2 separate regions of the Homo sapiens genome follow, and region 1 is linked to region 2. A link means that fine-mapping ties the variant in region 2 to the expression of a gene that starts in the linked region. Tissue or cell type: whole blood. Region 2 holds a variant in brackets; the other region holds the start of a gene. All regions are shown on one strand. Distances are between the middles of the regions.

Region 1 (2,500 bases), 48 kb before region 2:
CCAAGTAATCAGATGGGGGAAATTTTATTCTGCTAAAATACACTCACAGCTACACACCCTAAATGGAGTGGGCCAGTCAGCCCCGGAAACCGACTGGAATAGCCATCCAAGGAGAGCCATCTGTAACATGGCTTTTTTGAAATAATTTTTAGTGCAGTGGTTCTCAAACTTGGCTGCACGGTGGAATCATCTGGAGAAGTCTTAAAAGATACAGATGCCTGGGTTCCACCCCCATTCCCAAAGTCTGATGCAAATGGTCTAAGGTGCAGCCTAGGCATCAGGATTTTAAAAAGTTCCCTGGATGATTCTAACGTGCAGCCACTGTTGAAAACCACTGTTTTAGTGGGCTGTCTCTATGGCCAGGACAGACTGGGGATAAAAATCAAATCCAGACTCTCTGACCACATTCCAAAGCCAAGATAGCTTGGTTCACAGGCCCAGATAAACAGGGGTTACCTTCATCACATCCTACAGCCACCTCAAAGAGCCTACATCATCAGGACGCCAAGCTCCCCTGGGTTCATTCATTAAACACTGATGGCGTCCACACCATACACCTGGTACTACAGAGCACTGCGGCGCGGCACCTTACCAGAGCTGGAGAAATGAATAATGCCCCGGCGGTCTGCATTTTTTCAGTCTGCAGAGGGGGAAAAAATAGTAATAATAATCCCACTGAGACCCTGGTTGTTTGCTTATAATGACGACCTTTGGTCGTCCCCTTCACCCCCGTCCGTCCTCCCTAGACCACGCTCTTCCTTGCACCGTGCCCCAGCTGAGGAGGGCATTAGAGGTCAGAGGGACAGAGCAGTGGGTCTTCAAAGCAAAGTCATGGAGATCGGAAGTCAAGGAAATGTGCCCAAGCCCCAGGAAGGAAATGTTGCGAAAGGGAATGGTCTCTCGGGAAGACTGGAGGCGGATACTGGGCAGGTGTCGCGCAGGATCCTGCCCATCTTACACAGCAGTCCCCGACCCGCCCCAGCCGAGGCAGTCAATCGTTCATTACCGTTGGTAATTAACATTCATTGATAAGGCCATATCTAGATTGCCATAGCCTCTCCCAGCACTGGGGGGAAATACCCCTCCACACTGCCCAGCCCACAACCCTGCCTATTGCTGGCTCCCGGCCCCAAGTCACCTGCACTCCTACTACCCTGCAACCCCTGCTTGGCCCACAGCGCTCGCCCGGCTCAAGGTGACAGACTCACCTCCCAGCTTTAGCCCTTGGTCTCAGCGCTCAGCTTCCCCCACCCACGTGTCCTGGACCTTCTCCATTCTCATTGGCCGTAATATCCCCGCGTCCCCATTGGTTGACGTCATCGATTCCCCACTCTTATTGGCTTTCCGCAGCTGCTTCCTCTCCCTCCACAGGAGCTTCGTGGCAATTCCCGCCTCCATGCGGATAGAGGCGGGGCTTTCCTACGAGATCTGGATTACGATTGGCCGATCCCTGAAACGCTCGACCATAGAGTTGGCGGGACTCAGAGGTTCCATAACCTCGCGCACAAGATGGCGACCAAGGTGTACGCTGAAGAAAAAGGCGTGGGAGAGATGACGGGACGTGTGACGCAGTCAGACACATGACTTTGGCCCCGAGCCTTCATTCGGGCGCTTGGGCCACGGGGCGCGTTGCATGTTGGGATTGGTAGTTGCGCTGAGGGGGGGGGCCCAAGGACAGCTGAGATCCCGCGAGATATTCTAGGCCGGGAGAGCCGATGCCTTTGCAGTAATTCCCACCGTGGAGGTTTGTGGAAAGACCGCTTTCCATGGAGAGTAAAGGCCGGCTGGAAAGTCCCCAAGCGGTGAGCGCAGTTTTGTGGACCTCAGCCGGTGTTCAGCAGTCATGGACTATCATCCAGATGGCTTTCTAAAACATTTGTTGGGCCGGGTGCAGTGGCTCACGCCTGTAATCCCAGCACTTTGGGAGGCCGAGGCGGGCGGATCACCTGAGGTCAGGAGTTCGAGATCAGCCTGACCAGCATGGTGAAACCCCGTCTCTACTAAGAATACAAAAATTAGCCGGGCATGGTGGTGGCGCGTGCCTGTAATCCCAGCTACTTGGGAGGCTGAGGCAGGAGAATCGCTTGAACCCGGGAGGCCGAGGTTGCAGGGAGCCGAGATCGCGCCACTGCACTCCAGCCTGGGCAACTGAGCAGGATTCCGTCTCGGGGGAAAAAACAAACAAAAAAATTGTTTATTTTGTAAAAACAACACTGAAAGAATGAAATAATATCCCTATAGAAAAACGAGCAAAGGATAGGAACAGGCAATTCAGTAAGGAAGAAATATGAATTGCAGGAACGAATGTCAGCCTTCCTAATCAAAGAAATATAAGTTTAAACGCTCCGCTTAGTACTGCTCAAAACAGCAGAGTTCTTTTTATTAATGTGAGCCACACGCTCTCCTATATTGCTGGTGAGAGGATGAATTAGAAAACCTTCCTTGAAAGCAGTTTGGCAATATTTATTTTTATTCAAAGGCTGTGAATGGGCCATCCTCT
Region 2 (2,500 bases):
GGGGAGAGCATTTGAGGTGAGCTGCAAAGGACGAAACTTTACAGCCAACTCTTCATTCTCTAATTTACTATCTGTTGCTCAAAGGAATTCAGCAGAGTAGAGGAGGAAAAACCAGAGGTTTGGGAGCCAAACCTGCTTCACGGCTTATTCACTGTGAGGCCTTGGGAAAGTCACCATCTCTCAGGGATATTCATGTTACTTACTTATGCCCAAGAGATACTACTACCCACCTCAGGGGGCTACTGCACTGTGAGAATTTTTCTTTCTTTTCTTTTCTTTTTTTTTTTTTTTTGAGATGGAGTCTCGCTCTGTTGCCCAGGCTGGAGTGCAATGGCATGATCTTGGCTCACTGCAACCTCCGCCTCCTGGGTTCAAGGGATTCTCTTGCCTCAGCCTCCCAAGTAGCTGGGATTACAGGCATGTGCCACCACGCCTGGCTAATTTTGTATTTTTAGTAGAGACAGGGTTTCTCCATGTTGGTCCGGCTGGTCTTGAACTCCCTAGCTCAGGTGATCCACCTGCCTCGGCCTCTTAAAGTGCTGGGATTACAGGCATGAGCCACAGCACCTGGCCCACTGTGAGGATTTAATTAGGCAATACACACACACACACACACACACACACACACACACACACACACACACACACAGTGAGGATTTAATTAGGCAATACACACACACACACACACACACACACACACCCTCAACATAGGCCTAGCATAGTGTGTCCTCAGGGTAGGTATTCAAGTCAATAGCTTTATGGACAAGGGACATTAGAAGCCCTTCTTCAGATTAACGATTATTTCTTTATTGGGGTATGGTAATACCTCTGAAATGTATGAAGCATTCCAAATATAGATACATCTTTAAAAAAAATTTTTTTTTTGAGATGGAGTCTTGCTCTGTTGCCCAGGCTGGAGTGCAGTGGCATAATCTTGGCTCACTGCAACCTCTGCCTCTTGGGTTCAAGCAATTCTCCTGCCTCAGCCTCCTGAGTAGCTGGGACTACAGGTGGGTGCCACCACGCCTGGCTAATTTTTGTATTTTTAGTAGAGATGGGGTTTCACCATGTTCGCCAGGCTGGTCTTGAACTCCTGACCTTAAGTGATCCATCTGCCTTGGCCTCCCTCCTGGGATTACAGGCGTGAGCCACCGCACCTGGACAAAATATTTTTAAACACTTGTTTTTAAAAGGCCCCAGATTGGCCGGGCGCGGTAGCTCACGCCTGTAATCCCAGCACTTTGGGAGGCTGAGGTGGGTGCATCATCTGAGGTCAGAAGTTCCAGACCAGCCTGGCCAACGTGATGAAACCCTGTCTCTACTAAAAATACAAAAATTAGCTGCGCATGGTGGTGGGTCCCTGTCATCCCAGCTACT[C/A]GGGAGGCTGAGACAGGAAATCGCTTGAACTGGGGAGGCGGGGTGCCTGTAATCTCAGCTACCTGGGAGGCTGAGGCAGGAGAATCGCTTGAACCAGGGAGGCAGAGGTTGCAGTGAGCCAAGATCGCGCCATTGCACTCCAGCCTGGGTGACAAGAGCAAAACTCCATCTTAAAAAAAGAAAAACGCCCAAGATTTTCATATGATATATGGTGAAGTCTTTACTGGTGGTTGCTAAGCGCTTGGGGGAATACAACCAGTCTAAGCAAAATAGAAATATAACGATGTTCCAAAAAGAAAAAAAAAAGACGTTATAAACTACGTTTTAAAGTCTGGTAAGTAATTTTTGAATCATTCTCTTTTTCATGATCTGTACCTGCATTAACCAATGATAGCCACTAGCCACATGAAGCTATTTAAACTTTAATTAACATTAAGTAAAATTTAAAATCCAGTTACTCAGGCCGGGTGCGGTGGCTCACACCTGTAATCCCAGCACTTTGGGAGGCCGAGGCAGGCGGATTACCTGAGGTGGGGAGTTCGAGACCAGCCTGACCAGCATGGAGAAACCCTATCTCTACTAAAAATACAAAATTAGCCAGGCGTGGTGGCACATGCCTGTAATCCCAGCTACTCGGGAGGCTGAGGCAGGAGAATCGCTTGAACCTGGGAGGCGGAGGTTGCGGTGAGCCGAGATTGCGCCATTGCACTCCAGCCTGGGCAACAGAACGAAACTCTGTCTCTAAATAAATAAATTAAATTAAATTAAATCCAGTTACTTAGTCACACTAACCACATTTCAAGTGCTTAACAGCCACATGTGGCTAGTAGCAGCTGTACTAGACAGTGAAGCTACAGCTCCATTGCAGAAAACTCTTACCAGGCAATGTGACCTATACGCTTTGCTACATATGAGGAAGAAAAACAACTACCATCTTCTTTCTAAGACAGAAAACACTCTGGTGGGTTGGCACGCCTTTTAGTCTGATGATTCAACACCTTGCAGTCTCAACAGCTGTCATGATACTTGCCAGTGTCCTGCTGGTTGGCCACAATCCCTATCTCCAAACACCAGTCTTGTTACCTCCAGCTTCCGTTGCTCATCAATAAGCTTGATGTTCCAA

The links. PIP is the estimated chance that this variant, and not a neighbour inherited with it, causes the effect.
Region 1: ATP5MC1 starts here. The variant in region 2 is fine-mapped to the expression of ATP5MC1 in whole blood (INTERVAL, PIP above 0.99).

Annotation. Positions count from the first base shown.
Region 1 is chr17:48,891,549-48,894,048 of GRCh38, reverse strand. ATP5MC1 (ATP synthase membrane subunit c locus 1) reads right to left here and starts at 1,262. Exons shown (of 5, transcript NM_005175.3): 1 at 1,139-1,262; 2 at 593-640. The coding sequence starts at 631. It overlaps LOC105371814 (a long non-coding RNA gene), which reads left to right. Exons shown (of 4, transcript NR_135674.1): 2 at 1,372-1,802. RefSeq lists enhancers at 460-509, 550-659, 1,240-1,359, 1,370-1,829, 1,467-2,446.
Region 2 is chr17:48,843,521-48,846,020 of GRCh38, reverse strand. All of the region lies in intron 2 of CALCOCO2 (calcium binding and coiled-coil domain 2), which reads right to left. Among named protein-coding and RNA genes, the nearest start is that of CALCOCO2, 14 kb to the right of the region's middle. The variant C/A (reference allele first, on the strand shown) is at 1,378.